4 linked regions of the Homo sapiens genome follow. The protein of the gene in region 3 purifies or fractionates together with the protein of the main gene of each other region. This does not show direct contact. Each region holds a gene or a part of one and is shown on either strand. Other genes may lie near its edges.

Region 1 (3,876 bases), on a different chromosome or scaffold from region 3:
AGAGATGGGGTTTCACCATGTTGGCCAGGCTGGTCTTGAACTCCTGACCTCGTGATCCACCCACCTCGGCTTCCCAAAGTGCTGGGATTACAGGCATGAGCCACCACGCCCAGCTTTATTTATTTATTAAGAGACAGAGTCTTGCTCTGTTGTCCAGGCTAGAGTGCAGTGGTGTGGTCTCAGCTCACTGCAACCTCCGCCTCCCAGGTTCAAGTGATTCTCCTACCTCAGCCTCTCAAGTGGCTGGGATTACAGGCGCACGCCACCACGCCCAGCTAATTTTTGTATCTTTAGTAGAGACGTGGTTTCACCATGTTGGCCAGGCTAGTCTCAAACTCCTGACCTCAGGTGATCTGCCCGCCTTGGCCTCCCAGAGTGCTGGGATTACAGGCGTGAGCCACCGCACCCGGCCCTAATGCAGGGTTTTAACATGTCCTTCAATTAAGTTTAGTTGTTTCTGATTGTATTTTCATCCCAAGCTCCCTCAGTCAGTGGAAGTTACCCAGTCCCAAACTGACAGATTAATATCCTGATCCAAGGACTTTTCAGCTCCATATTCAGAAATCCCCAATTTATCCTTCTACCTCTATGGCTGATTCACCATACCAACTTAGGAAAGTATTGTCAACTCTTTATGGCTAGGGTCTCCACTCTGTAAAAAGGACCATTATTATACTAGCTGCATATTCAACATAGTTATTTTACCTCTTAGTAGTCCACACTTAAGGAATCACAAAGGAGTGGGCGAATGTTTCAGAAAGTATTTGGGAGAGTTTCAAAAAAACAAAAAACAAAAAAAGGGGAAAGAAAAAAGGGAGTTACAAAGCTTCCAACTCAAGTGGCTTGGAAGAGATCAGCTGATAAAAATCAAAACAGGCTTGACATGGAAAGGGAAAATACTCTAGACAATAAGTGTGAGGACTGTAAAGGCTGTTGGCTCACCTACCTCCTGAATAAGCTAAAAATATTTCCCCAAGGAGTGGCTGGGATCTGCAGCATTCCAAGGAATTAAGAATTCTGGTTTGATCCTTTTGGTTCACAGGATCCCTAGCAGCAATCCTCAAGAGCCTCAGCAGATTGGAGAGATGCCTCTTTGATTCTGTCCCAGAGCTAAAGATTGGAATAACTGTCCCTCCCCCTCTAAACCCACAGTCTGCCACAAGAACATTTTAAACCTTCCTCCATGATGGGCAGCAGAACTCCCTGACTAGTCCTCCAGATCCTTCTCAAGCACAGAATAGAGAGAGCATGATGGTGAGTGAGGATACTGTCCTTCCTGCAGGTCTTCAGTTCCACCACACTCTCCTAAGGGAAGGAAGAAGCCAGGCCTCAATGCTGTACCTCTCTCTGGAGGCAGCAGGCACAAGTGGAATGGAAGTGATGGAAAATCCTGCTTTTATGCAAATTGTAACTATAAACTCATTATAGTCAATATGAACATTGTATGGCTAAAGAATATCTCCAGCCAGGCATGGTGGCTCACGCCTGTAATCCCAACACTTTGGGAGGCCGAGGTGGGTGAATTGCCTGATCTCAGGAGTTCAAGACCAGCGTGGCCAACATGGTGAAACCCCATCTCTACTAAAATACAAAATTAGCCAGGCGTGGTGGTGCAAGTCTGTAATCCCAACTACTCGGGAGGGTGAGGCAGGAGAATCGCTTGAACCTGGGAGGCTTGCAGTGAGCTGAAATCACGCCACTGCACTCCAGCCTGGGTGACAGAGCGAGACTAAAAACAATATCCCCACAGTTGTCAGAAAAAAGCTTTTGTGAGACCAGCCTGGGCAACTAAAATACAAAAATACAAAAAATAAGCCAGGCATGGTGGTGCATGCCTGTAATCCCAGCTACTCGGGAGGCTGAGGTGGGAGATCACTTGAGCCTGGGAAGTCGAAGCTGCAGTGAGCCATGATCACACCACTGCACTCCAGCCTGGGCAATGGGAGTGAGACCCTGTCTCAAGAAAGAAAAAAAAAAAAAAGAAGTTTTTGGGTACAGAGTTGATCCCAAAGACTGTGGTCACTTTAAAGAAGGTTTCTCAACCTCTTCACTATTGGCATTTTGAGCTGGATAATTCTTTGTTATGGGGGCTGTCGTGTGCACTGCAGGATGTTTAGCAGAACACCCACTAGATGTCAGTAGCATTCTCCTTCCCCTGCCCCCGGCCACCCACCAGTTGTAATAATCACAAACGTCTCCAGATGTTTCCAAATGTCTCCTGAGGGTAAAATCACCCCAGGTTGAGAACTACTGCCCTAGAACTTCTCTAGGTTTGGTCAGCTGCCAGGATGGGGACTCCCAGCTCAGCAGGATGTTCTTTGGGCTCCCAGCCACGCCAAGAAGTGTTCAGGCAGACCTGGTTCAGGCCAGTCCCTTCCTGGCTAAGAGCTCTTGGAATGACTGGAATCTCCAAACCTCTATAACTGAGCTGAAGGTCTAGTGACTCTCTGCATCTCTGAAGCTTGAGACCACCTCAGGACAGCTTCACTTGCTTTTCCACCCAAGGTGCCCCTTGTCACTTACTCTGCACACTAGCTTAATTTGCAGGCAATTTCCAGAGTTACCCTTTGGTGACCAATCTGCTCAATCCCTTAAAGATCTTCTCATCAGGATTATTAGAACACTAGGAAGGCTGGGCATGGTGGCTCACGCCTGTAATCCCAGTACTTTGGGAGGCCGAGGCGGGTGGATAACCTGAGCTCAGGAGTTCGAGACCAGCCTGACCAACATGGCAAAACCTGGTCTCTACTGAAAATTCAAAAATTAGCTGGGGGTGGTGGCACGTGCCTGTAATCCCAGCTACTCAGGAGGCTGAGGCAGGAGAATCGCTTGAACCTGGGAGGTGGAGGTTGCAGTGAGCTGAGATCATGCCATTGCACTGCAGCCTGGGTGACAGAGTGAGACTCTGACTCAAAAAAAAAAAAAAAAAAAAAAAAGAACACCAGGAGATGTGATATAAAGGAAGATATCACATTATCTGGAAAAGCCTAAAAGCTTGATGTTTAGCAGGGGACTTCCTATCCCTAGTGTTACAGAATAACCTCTCTCCTTATCCCTCCCACTCTGGTAGGATTCAGTACAGCATTCATTCAATATGGGAGGCCTAAAATCAACCCACCCATCACTCTTCACTTATCTCTCCAGACTGAAGAAAAATTTATAGAAACTGAGCTCACTCACAGAGAGTACAAGATCCCGCTTGCGCCTGGAGTTCTTCTGCCCACTTCCTCTGGTCCTGCATGGGGAAACGGTCAGCCCTAGAGAGTGTCTCAGCTCCCCAGTGCTCCCAGGGCCTGACTCTTCCAAGGCACTGTCCAGCGCAGCAGCGGCATTGAGCATGTCCTCAGGGCGGGGTGGTGGCAGCTTGGTTCCATTTTCTGGTCCTGTCTCTGGGGTTGCCCGCTGGATTGCCAGTTGTGTGGCTGGTGAGAGTTGCTTGGCATAAGCAGGGACCAGAACTCGCTGTACTGCACCCTCAGAGGCCACGTAATCATCCACCAGCTAAGAACATAAAAAATAATAGCCTATTAGCCAGCCAGGCTTAGGGGAACCTGGTTAACCATCATTCTTTGGCTAAGAATAGTGAACAGAAAGTGGAAAGAAGGGGAACTCTAGCACAGTCTTTAATGGTCAATGGCTTGTTTCTCTGGGACTCCTATGAGTGTTGGGCAAATATTTCTTGTGTGTACAGGGCCTCTCATGTTGGGTTGTTACCATAGGGCTGCTCACAAGGAGAAAGCATGTTTCTGACACTGTTGGTGAATAGTCATTTATGGATAGCTCTTGGATATAAGAAATGGAGCTAGATAAGTGTTTTGTCTGAAAGGACTGGGTGAAGAAGTGATGACAAGAAAGAAACCAAGCAAGAGAAGGAGT
Region 2 (3,130 bases), on a different chromosome or scaffold from region 3:
TCTCTTTAGGCCAGCAGTTCTCAAAGAGGGGCAAGACGCTTTCGGGGGTCCACAAAATTGTTTTCATAATAATCCCAAAATATCATGTGCCTTTTCCGCGTCATCTCATGGGCGCAGTGGGGCTTTCAGAGGCACCATGGCATGTGCTCTTGCAGGTTAAGCACAGCAGGTAGGAGGCTCCCACTGTCTTCCATTCAGCCAGACATTACAGGCATTTGCAAAAATGTCTTCGTCAATGCCTCTCCTCACAAGCGTTTTGTTTTGGAAAATATAGTTTTTTTTATTTAAAATGTTGTTTAACAGTGTTTTTATTTTCCAAATAATTATTTTAAAATTCTGTTTAAATGTATAATATGGTAAATATTGATAGAGAAAACCTATATAAGCAAAAGCTGTTTGAGGCCCTCAATGAGTTCTTATAGTGCAAGGGGACCCTGAGACAAAATGTGTGAGAGCCTCGGCCTGCGAGCTCTGGAGTGTGAGAGCCTCGGCCTGCGAGCTCTGGAGTGTGAGAGCCTCGGCCTGTGAGCTGGAGCGCGGACTGCTGGATCCATGTGTGGATCCCAATGTGTTGCAGATCCATCAGAGTAACTAACTCAACAAACGTGTACTGAGTGCTTATCACGTGCCGTGGATCCCAAGGCGTTGCAGATCCACTGGAGTAACTAATTCAACAGAAGTGTACTGAGTACCTATCACGTGCCAGGCATTGTCATAGGTGCTAGTGCTACGGCCATGAACAAAACAGACAAAATCCACCTGCCTGCCTTGTGTTCTTGTCTAGCAGACACAGTGCTGTGGAGACAGATCGACTATGTATGTCAAAATTCCAATAAGATAAAACACACAAAAACCCAGAAACAGCTGTAGCAAATATGACACACACCAGGTTAATATCTTTAATATATACCGAGCTCATACAAATTTATCTGACCCCAGAAGATAGAGCAAAGGACACTGACAATCCACAAAGGAGGAAATACAATCGCTCCACATGAAAGATGTTCAACCGTGCTAGAAGTCAGTGAAATGCCAACTGAAACACGATGCTATTTTTTCATTATCAAATTAGCAAATATTTAGCCAGATGATAATTCCCAATACGGGCAAGATGGACATGTTTATCCTTGCTGGTGGCAGTGTAAGGGGATACAAATATTTCCGGAAACCATTTTGTCAATATGTAGTAAAAGCCTCAAAGGTTTTCATATTCTTTAGTTGAAGAATCCCACCTCCTGGAGTCTACCCTAATAACTTGACATTGGGAAACAGCCTGTGCACAAAGATATTCATCAATTTATAACTGAAAAGTTAGTAACAGCATTAGTGATTGGCAACTGGCACAATGGTCCATCTAGTCAATGGGAGAGTACACAGCCACTCCAAAATAAAATATTTAGTAATCATAAGGGGAGATGCCCACGATATGCTAAGTGAAAACAGCTGCACAAAACTGTATCATTACAGAAGACAGCAACAAAACTATGTTAAAACAAAAAGCAAAGAAACCATAGTTGGGGGGGAAAGCCTGAGAGACACCAAAATGTGATGTTTTATTTCCTTCTTTCCTCTACTTGCAAAAATTTATCTAACATGTGGTTTACATGGGTAATGAGAAGACCTAGTAGGTTTGGTGCTTGTGTATGCAAAGGCATGAGGCACACGGAAGTGAGGAGCTGGGTTTCCTCCCATCTCTACCGCATCTGCGCTGTGCCAACTGCCACCCCACCCAAACTCAGGTCCCCAAGAGACAGAGACACAGGGGCTGTCTGTTCCACGTGGAAGGCCCTACACCCCAACCTTCTCCCCTACTCTGGGGAGCTTCTCCTGTTGGCCCAACAGTCTGCTCTTGCTTCCCTTACCCAGGAGACCCACCTTGTGCCTACCTCTCTAAGTCCCTAAACCAGTGCTTTCCAAGCAGAGGTGCCATGAGCCTTACAACTGTGGTTGCAGATGGAGGCGCCTCCATTAGGATCTCTTCCCTCTTCCACCCAGAGCTCTGCCCCCAGTCAGTGGCTGCAGCATGGGCCCTTTTGTCCAATCCCAGGGCTTGTTCCCTAAGTCAACCTCAGCACATGCCCAGCTCAGCCATGTCCCTTCACTCCCCTACAGGCTGGAACTGCCAGGGTGGTGCCCACCCAAGGCGGCTGTCTGCCATGACAACAGGAGCGTGTGCGTCAGGCTGGTCCTGCCGCACTTTCTGGGTTTTGTTTTCCACTCCTCCTCATTGCTCATCACATACTTACCTGGGGACAATGAAATAGGTCTTTGCTATTCCCTAGAAGTCACCAAAATGCTTTAGGACATTAAGTTAGTCCCAGGGTCACACTATACTAGGCCAGGGAGTCACCCCTTCACTAACTCCCATCTCCAGTGATACCCTGGTATGCACTGAAGCCTACTTACCAAAGGGGTACCATGTGGACCAGACAGCAGTCACAATACAGTCCAAAGAATGTCAAAACCATGGAAAACAGAACTTTCCTTCACATGCACTGTTGAACACTACTGCCTGTCCCTTTTATCAATCAATACCCGTTCTCCTAAAATTTAGAGAAATTATAACCCCAAAATATGTACAAAGCATCTCCCTTCCCCCACTTTCTTAGCCTGATCCCCTATCACTGAGGTCTCCCTCTGGGGCTGCGCCTCATCCTCCTTAGCTGGAGACTAACGTATCTTCCACTAGAGCCACCATGGGGTCCTCACCTCTCCAATGTGGGCTTCTTCCAAGTCCAAGGTGGAGGGCAAGCCCCGACCCTCTCTCATCTGCTCCGTGTTCCAAAGTGCAGGGAGCTATCAAGAAGGTCCTAAGTGCATACCAGCACTCGTCCCAAGCCCACACACATAAGCACCAAGAGAAAAAACACAAATCACCATGCCAAACAAAGGTGGAGCAGCTGCTTGGATTGGGTGCCCATAGGCAGAGGGCCCGGCTGCAGTTGTGGACAGGGAGTGTGTGGACAGGGAGTGTGTGGACAGGGAGTGTGTGGACAGGGAGCGTGGCCGGCCTTTCCTAGGCAGCTGTAGGATGTGAAGCAGCACAGGCCTGACACAGACATGGTAGGGCTTTCAAAAAGCCACTCGAGTAGAGTGAGCGCTGGCGACACAGCAGAGTTCCCACCCTGCT
Region 3 (5,391 bases):
AAGGGGGTGTCTGAGAGGAGGGAAAACAATGCTAGGAAGGACAGGAAAGAGTTCGAGAGGAGGAAGAGAAGAAGAGAGGAAATAAGGGTGAAAAGCTGCAGCCGAAAAGAAGTAGGGGATACACACACCCTGGTTTGCTGAGACTGTAGAGTGCTGACCTTAGAAAACAGCTCGCCCAGGGGGAGCCTCTGGGGAGGTGGGACCACCCCAAGGTACAACTTGTTCCAGCCACCCACCCCACCATTCTCCAATTGTGGATTGTGGTGGTAGGTGCAGGGATCTTATACAATCATTGAAAGTGCCAAGGACACTGCTCAGAGGCCACCAGCACCAGGGCTGGACACTCACTCAGCCTCAGCAGGCTGCTCCCCGTGGCGTCAGGCTGGCAGATGGTGGGAGGAGATTTGGCAGCCTCTCCATTGGGCGTGGCTCCTGAAAGCTTCCCAGGTAAAGTGGGATATTTGTGCTCCGCCAAGAAAGGGCTGTCCTATTGGAAGGTGAGAGAAAGAGAGAGATACCGACTTAACTGTCAGCCTCAGTTAGGAAATCCTTGGATACAGAACAACTCCCTGTTTTGCAAGAGCCATTTTTCACATATGGTGACTTGAACACCCCTCAAAGATTATTTAGCTAGTCCGAGAAAGGGGACCAGAGTTCCAAGGAAGGAAGAAACTTTCCCAAGGCCACACAGTAAGACAGGGACAGAGTCAAGTGCAAATCTGGGGCTGACTGAAACTGACTCTAACAGGAAGTGAAGCTGTCTTGCAAAGCGGCCTTTGCTGTCTGGCCTAGTGCTCAGAGACTCAATGAATTAACAGCCGTGAATTACTCTGTAAGCTCTTTGGATATGAAAATTGGCATTCTAATAAAAGCTGCCTAGTGTTTTATCATACATACATACATATATATGTAAAATAACAATCCTGCAAGAGAGGAAACTGAGCTCAGTCTGGTCTGGGCTCCTCTGTTTCCCCCAGATTTGCTTTCCTGTGGTGAGGAGAGAGGTGCTTCTGCTAATTGGAACCCTTACTCAGACCAGAAAAGGGCAGATCTCTGTGAGGGCCTGACCAACTGCATAAATGATATGGATCTTGCCTGAGAGCGGCTATGGTACAGAAGGGAAATTATAGTTTAAATGTGGAGCAAAAGAAGAAAAAATCCCTATATTGTGATCATGGCTTCTTAAAAAACATCATGTTAAGGCAAGCATGAAGATACACACACACCCTTGGGGGAGCTGACAACAAGAAATGGGCCAGAGGACTACATGCCAACAAAGCTCCTTTGGGAACTTAGGATCATAGTCTGCACGAGGTAGAGCCTCAGTGCAGCCAGCTCCATGCTTGGACCCTGGCCATGGAAAGGTCCCAAAGAAACAAGTTGATTAAATGAGGAAGAAGATAGCACTTATTTGGTAAAGAGGCATACAATGGCCTCTCTTAATCTGCAAACCTGAGAGAAACACAGTGGAATGTGCTGTGAAAGTGAGAATAAAAGAAAAGAGAAATTGAAGCAATGTCACTAAAGGAATCAACTGTGGATCACCTGATTAGATCCTGAAGAAAGTAATATAAAAAACAAAACAGATTTCAAACTGGCAAGTCACAACAGTAATGGAAGGCTGCTGTGACTGAGACATCTTATGAAGTTCCATTTAGCTAAAGGCCAAATATCCAATATATTTCCAATTCAATTTGCTTATAAACATATGTCCTAGAAATTGTTTGAGATTCAGTTCATTCATTGAACATTGACTATTAACTCCCCATAAATAGTTCAGAAAGGAGAGATACAGTGAGAGGAAACTGAATTCTGAAAGAACTGGCTGGTGGAGTAGAAGTAACTAGAACCTTCAGAGAGGAAGGCTATGAGATTTTCAAGTTTGTGATGACCCATGAGGTGAAGATTAGACATGATCAGACATACGGTCAAGACCCACAGTTTCCAAGTGGTAGTTCATGTGCCGGCTGCTCTTCATAATTACCTGGAGCACTTGTAAAACAACATGAATTCCCAGTGCCCAGTCCCTGATTCAGTCCCTCTGGAAGCACACCCCAGATGTCTATATTTTTAACAAGGATCTCAGATTATCTCAGATTATACTAATGCAGTCAGACCCAGGAACCACTGACTGTGAGAAGGTAGTGTTCAAAGATGTTAGAGACCTGAAGGGCATGACTCCAAGCTCCCTATTATATACGACATATGGAGGGGGGAAGAGCTCTCAAAAACGTGTTTCTGGTTGCATCATCACGCATGCTCCCTCAAGGCAGGGCAGAGACAGCCAAGGAAGCAAGTGGGCCACCCGGGGAGCTCCCTGAGGAGCTGAGATGCAAGGAGAACACATACCTAACCCAAGGATGGGGTTTAAAAGGCAGCCCCGACCTGTAAGAAAGACAGCAAAAAGGAATCAAGGACAATGGAAAGGGCTCTCTGAGCTCTGCTCAGGCCAAGAATAAGGGCTGGGAAGAAATGACTCACTGATGTGGAAGGCAGTGCAATGTCAAGACGTGACGCAGAGGAAACAAGGATGCTCAACTCCAGTTCTGTTTCTCCTGTCTCCAAAAAGAACAATCCTCCTGGCTGTAGGGGAACAGAAGCCCCAGCCAAGGGAGTAGTGTAGAACTGATTATCCAGCTGCTTTAAATTACAACAGAGAAGCAGCATGCCAGAGTGGAAAGGGCCTAGGCTTTGAGTCAGACCAACTCAGACAGAGCTGTTTCTCTTCCACCTCTCAGGACCTCTGGTCATTTCTAAATGGAGAATAACAATTCCTACCTCAGGTTTGCCAGGAAATAACATATCCACAGGGCCTAGCACACAGCGGACAGTGGATAAGGAGAAGCACAGGAAATATCACATACCCAGGGCCTAAAGAAATAGCAATCTAGAAGAGGAGTCCTTAGACCACGGCAGGCACTGGTCAGACTACATCTAGAATATCACACTCCAAGTCTGGTCCAGGGCAGAACTTGAAGAATACATTGAGAAACTAGCGCTGAGCCTAAGAAGACTAAGTAGCAGCTTAAAAGGCTTGTGATCCATGCACATGAGAAGGTGATGTTCAGCCCAGAGAACAGAGCACTCAGAGAGGGCATGAGGGACTTAAATTCCAGAGCTGTCAGGAGTAGGGGAGATTGACTTTTTCCATGGGCTAGATGTGGAGGGAGAGGATCAGCAGATGCACATTTTAGAGAAGCTCACACAGCTGCAAAAGAATACAAAGGATGTCTTCCAATGAAATGAGCTCTCAGTCACAGAAAGCAAGAGCCAGTTTAAGCAAGGGCCAGACACTACAGTTAGGGATGCTGCAGAAAGATGACTGTGGAGCGGTTCTGCACCTGTGTAGCTATTCTGGGGAGGACGGTGGTGTATGTGGGTGAGAGGGGAGGGTGGTCATGTTGAATAACTGAGGTTGTATAAGATTGTGATTATGGCCAAAACCATGTAAGAATTAATCTTTTAATCTGGAGCATTTTTTTCTTTATAAATAGTTCTACGTTACTTATATTTCTTGGTAATCAAATTGGCGTCTTAAACCTTGAGCCTGTGAGCTGGGTGTGTTTCCAAAGGAGCAGGTGGTCACTTACAGGTGTGCTTTAGAAACACCTGCGAATGACCTCTGTGACGCTGAGGTGGGAGGGGGGACTGCTGAGCGATTTAACAGCTGACGCCATAGGAAGCCTTTCAGTTCACAAAGGGACCACACCAACCCCAGGCTCAAGGGACTGTGTTGCAGAGCACCTGGGCAGGGGAGCAGGCAGAAGACTTTTGCTATACAGTTCAGATGGCCCAAGGAATGGCTGCCCACTTGAAGAACCAACTGCTACAAATATGGAAGAGTAGAGAAGCCCCTTATATAGATGCAGACGTGCAGAAAAGATCTTTCTCTTACGCAGATGTGGAGGAGCAGAGATGCCCCATTTTACCGTGAAAATATAAAATGACCCTCTCAGGCAGAAGTCAGCAAGCAATGAGAAGCTCCATGTTTCATATGGACATGGAGGCAGGGGACAGAGAAGGGAAATGCCATCAGCCTCACAATACATTTTCCATATAATGTTATAAATGGTGGTTGGGTGTGGCTGAAATCATGCTAATTATATGAATCTTCATTTCTTTATGGGCTCAACATTTTGTGCACTGGCCTAAAAACTTAATCCTCTTCCACAACAGGCTTCCCTGGAGAAGATCAGTCCTAATGGAATTTTTATAACATAACTTGTTCATCAAAGCGGGACTGAGTGTACACTTGTGTTTTTTTAACCATGACATATCAGCACAGAAAGGATGAGAGCTGTCACGTTCTTCAGTGTGCTGAGATCGTAGCAATCCCCTTCCCAGTGATTAAATCTAGATTACTTTGTTAAAGATTAATTTCTCTGAGCCTATAAAATGGAGGTGATAATAATAAATCCTGTCCCACAGATAATGATAGCAAAAGCATATTAAATAGCTGAGTGCACATAAAAATAAAATGGGAGAGAAAAGTTGCGTCTTTCCTCTTGCCCTCTTACTCCTTACAGTTGGCACATTTTAAGGTTATGAAAACTATGACTTGCTAAATTAAAATACTAGCAAACAGTGTAACCACAAATAGACGACGGGGCACGAAGTCAATGTACCTTGGGTTCTAACACCGGGAAGGGCTGGTTCCCATCCATACACTATGGAGTAACATGAGGATTTCGTTTATGTGGAGAAAAAGAGACTTGTGTTATTCACAAACAGCAACAACTCAGGACTACCTGTTTGCTTAAATCTGAAAGGCGCATCCCCTCCCTCCACATCTTCATGTCAAGTAATCACCATCCAGGGCAGGAAAGATCCCTGTCCAACTCCATGGACAGATGTCCTGGGCAGCTGCCAGCAACATGACCATGGCAACCGAGAGACACGTGACCATGGGAGCAGAGCCACTGAATGATCCCAGGGCTCCTGCAGACTTCAGCCTTTATGGTTCTCCACTGTATCAACAAGGAGGCTGATGAACATTATTGGAGACCAAGGGATGGTATGCAGCACAGGCTCACTGAAGGGTCTCTATCAGGGCAGGCTCCCTTGGTCTCTAATGACCAAGCTCAAGAGCCTGCTACTGTCCCCTGCAGCATGAGGTCCACCCACATGATCAAGGGCTACTCCTATATAAGGAGCCACAAGACCCTCCTCCATCTTTCCAGACTCTTACAACAGCTCACTCTCCAACATCCTGACGATCCCACATCTTTCCTTGGGATCATCTCCTTTATTCACATTAATTCATCATTAAAAAAATCTATACGATGTCCCCAAGTGCCCCAGGGATATAGGACTAGTAGTCAAGATCTTCCCTGGCTTGATCTGTCTCATGGCTCTGACCTTACCTCCTCCTACTCTCCACCATCTTCCAAA
Region 4 (3,876 bases), on a different chromosome or scaffold from region 3:
AAACGATTCTTCTGCCTCAGCGTCTCGAGTAGTTGTGATTACAGATGCGCACCACCATGCCTGGCTAATTTTTGTATTTTTAGTAGAGACAGTGTTTCACCATGTTGGCCAGGCAGTCTCAAACTCCTGACCTCAAGTGATCCACCCGTCTCGGCCTCCCAAAGTGTTGAGATTACAGGTGTGAGCCACCGGCGCCCAGGTACTCTCATCTTTTGAAAGTTGCTATTTATGGTGGTTTCTGGTTTCCTTCAAACTTGTGTTGTATTTCTGTTGAGGTAATTTAGCATTTATACTATGAAAATCATTGAGAACTTTTAGAAGAAGCAGTTGTTTTGGGAACCAGACAAGCTTTTGTGCAGTTTTTTTTTTCAATGGTGGAAAATAATTTATTTCTCTACCTTGAGTGTAAGGCAAGGGAAAAAAAACTCTTACCAATTGCGTTTTGGAAAACGCAGTTGGTAATATCTCTAGATAATATCTCTGGAGACGTACATAACTTTAATTTTCCTCGAAATTTGCAATATGACAAAATTGAAAAGGGAAATAATACCTCTCACCATTAAATACAAGAATATAATAATCTGAACAATTGAAATTATACTTAAATATGTTATTGACTCTAAAATAATAGAAATGCCTTAATTCCAGACAGTCTTTAAGAAAGCATAATGTGGCTAGGCGTGGTGGCTCATGCCTGTAATCCCAGCACTTTGGGAGGCCAAGATGGGCAGGTTGCTTGAGCCCAGGAGTTTGAGACCAGCCTGGGCAACATGGTGAAACCCTGTCTCTACAAAAAAATACAGAAAGTAGCCAGGTATGGTGGCGTGCATCTTTAGTCCCAGCTACTCAGGAGGCTGAAGAGGGGAGATGGCTTGAGCCCATGAGGCAGAGGTTGCAATGAGCTGAGATCACACTACTGCAAGCCAGCCTGAACAACAGAACGAAATCCTGTCTCAAAACAACAACAACAAAAAACAGAAAGAAAAGAAAGTATGTTTTACATATTTCCATTTTCTCCTTACTCTTCTGAAAAACAAAAATGAAAAGTTTTCATTTTTTTTAACATTTCCTTTAAATGTAAAATTTTATATAACTGTTCTTGGCTTTGGTAGTCTGTTGTCAGAATCAAGTACAGAGATTGTACTGTCAGACGACCTAAAACTGTTTTAAATCTTAAGTGTCCTAAAGAGAGGGCACATATTAGCTTGGAAGCAACTGGTGAAACTTGATATTCAGAGACAAGGCCGTAGAGGTTAAATGAAGTTATATAGTAAAAAACAGCCTTTACGAGTTAATGAAATGTTACAACCAACGTATGCTGAAGTGAAGCAGTATAAAAGAAGGAAAGAACTGGAAGGTCATCCTTTTGTCAGTGTTGTTACCTTTGTCTCTGTTCTTCAGATTGTTTGAGAAAATGAAGTGATTTCCACCAAAGACTTCATACCCAGCTTTCCCCCCTTTTTGTGCCCTTTGGCATTCTCTGCTTCTCTATCCCCCTCATGTCAGCAGAGATGAATTAGGAAATAGGTAGGAGGGAGAGAGAGCAAAAACAGAATTTTTCCATTGTTTTCTAGCTGTTTTGGATGAATTTGAGCAGTAGGCCCTTGGACTTCACAAAGTGCTAGTATTGTTTTGAACATCCCAGCAACCATTGCATTATATTAGTATTTCAAAGTGAAAATAAGAAAGACTACAAGTGTGGGAGGATGGGGGTAAAATCCAACTTAGATGGACCTGCAGAAAAGTTGAAAGATTGATTTTCAAGTATTTTTATTTGTATATATAAGAGAAAGAATGAGCTAAAGACTCTAAAAGAGTAGCTGGTGCATATTAAAAATTATAGATTAGCAAGCCACAAATTTCTGTTCCGAAAAATGTTTTAAAGTAATGTGGCTGAAGTATTAGATTATTAGGAATATTTTGAGTGTTCTAACAAGAGTGCCAAAATTAATTTGGAGAGTAACGACTGTTTCTACTCTTTGGACTCTTGCCAACATTTGTGGGTAAGGTTTAAGGAGAAGGTGCCTATCTTTCCCACCTCACTCAGTAGTAGTTTTCTCATCCTTGTAAAATACTTAGGGAGATTCTGTGTTGTATTGCTTGAACCTCACAGGTTTAAAAGACAGGAAGGTGAATTTTTGCACTCAAAGAAGTTATTTACTAATTTTAGAATAGAGACTGAGGGAATACAATAAGCAGAGATAGAGTGATATGAATGAATAAGGAGTGTATGTGAGAGAGAGTGAGCACAGGTATAGCAAGAGATTATTGTCATCTCCCTATTTTATATAATCAAATAGTTGAAATTCTAAAAATTCAGTTTATTTGGCCAAAGATTAATTTAGTCAGTCACAGGTATTTGTTATGAATCTGTTATGACCTAATATTGTGCTAGGTATCAGGAATTCATTCAGTAGTGAACCAAAGTGCCTACCTTTATGGAGCTTACATTGAGTGGTGGATATCAATAAATAGTAAGCAAATACAAGCTGGGTATGGTGGTGCATGTCGTAGTTCTGGGTACTGGGGAGGCTGAGTTGGGAGGATTGCTTGAGCCCAGGAGTTTGAGGCTAGCTTGGGCAACATACTGAGACCCCTGTCTCTTAAAAAAAAAAAAAAAAAAAGTAAAAGCAAGCAAAACACAATCAATATAATTTCAGTTAGTGATAAATGCCTTTAAAAAACACCAAGATAAACTGTGTGTCGGTTAAGATGCAATCATAAGTCAGAAGCCACAGGTATTTTCAAGAGGGTAAGTTTAATAGAGTTACTGACTATATCAGGGAAATTAAAGAAAATTAAAAGAATACAAGAATAGTTTTAAGAAGCAGCCACTACTGATAGGGCTGAGATAGAGTGCCCAAGTAAGAACCTTTTTTGCCAAGGCTAAGATTCTTACCTTATTGGAAGGAATATGGCCATGACTCAGTAGCAGAGCAGTCACTGGTGTTGCTCTGGTGGAACTTACTGGAAATGCATCCTTCAAAACTTGGTGGGAAATATGCCCTCTAGGTCACGGGTTGGCAAACTGTAGTCCTTTTGCCAGCTGTTTTATAAAAAAAAGTTTAAATAGAACACAGCTATGCCCAATCTATTTACATATTGTCTGTATCTGCTTTCTCACTACAAAGGTAGAGTTATGATGTTATAATCTGCAAGCCTAATTTACTATTTGTCCCTTTAAGAAAAAGTTTATAAATCCCTGTTCTGGAGTACTCTAAAAAACTGTTTATGGGGAGATATCTTGTTAGAGATACTCTGCTTTGAAACCTCCCAAGGGAGAGGAAGCACCAGTGAAAGCTGATGGTCTTTGAGTGTTGCTGACCACCATTAATATCAAGAGCTAGGCACTGGAGAAGCTGCCTCCACTGCAGAAGCTTGCCAAGGATACATGAGTCAGGAACAAGAGCTCCTTTTTCTTGTAATATCTCTCTTTTATCCCCTGCTGACAGAACTTAACATCATGGCACCTAGAAAAAGAAAGATATTTATTTAAGGAACCAAGCTCTATGCTTGTAGAGCAGACAATGAAGAATGAATTTGGAGCAATAAATTGATAACTGGCCCATAAACAGACTAGGATTTGTGAATATTTTAGGTAAGGTGATGAGGAAAGCCTCTCCAAGGAGACGATGTTTGAGGAGAGATCTAAATGATTAGAAAAGATGGGCCAAAGGGGAATGACAAAAGGTAAGGCCTTGAATGTGGCTGTTCAAGGAAGCAGGAAGGCCCATGTGATTAGAATATCTTTAGGGAATTAGGAGAGTGAGAGTAGGGAGGTAGGCAGGAGCAGATGGTATAGGGCCCTAGATCTATAGTAAGAAGATTGGAAATGAGGGGACCAGTTAGAAGACTATCACAGTTTTCCTGTATGGT

What was found. The genes of interacting proteins can lie anywhere in the genome.
Region 1: the proteins of PPFIBP2 (region 3) and C14orf93 purify together in Homo sapiens (affinity purification with mass spectrometry; one large-scale study listed by BioGRID and IntAct). This does not show direct contact.
Region 2: the proteins of PPFIBP2 (region 3) and RTL6 purify together in Homo sapiens (affinity purification with mass spectrometry; one large-scale study listed by BioGRID and IntAct). This does not show direct contact.
Region 4: the proteins of PPFIBP2 (region 3) and HSF2 purify together in Homo sapiens (affinity purification with mass spectrometry; one large-scale study listed by BioGRID and IntAct). This does not show direct contact.

The regions. Positions count from the first base shown.
Region 1 is NC_000014.9:22,992,768-22,996,643, forward strand, and holds part of C14orf93 (uncharacterized protein C14orf93 isoform a precursor), read right to left. Parts: intron 3,502-3,876; coding exon 3,181-3,501; intron 1-3,180.
Region 2 is NC_000022.11:44,491,707-44,494,836, forward strand, and holds the end of RTL6 (retrotransposon Gag-like protein 6), read right to left. Parts: 3' UTR 877-3,130; downstream 1-876.
Region 3 is NC_000011.10:7,634,828-7,640,218, reverse strand, and holds part of PPFIBP2 (liprin-beta-2), read right to left. Parts: intron 4,668-5,391; coding exon 4,626-4,667; intron 488-4,625; coding exon 349-487; intron 1-348. UniProt on the Homo sapiens protein: May regulate the disassembly of focal adhesions. Did not bind receptor-like tyrosine phosphatases type 2A.
Region 4 is NC_000006.12:122,402,652-122,406,527, forward strand, and holds part of HSF2 (heat shock factor protein 2), read left to right. Parts: intron 1-3,876. UniProt on the Homo sapiens protein: DNA-binding protein that specifically binds heat shock promoter elements (HSE) and activates transcription. In higher eukaryotes, HSF is unable to bind to the HSE unless the cells are heat shocked.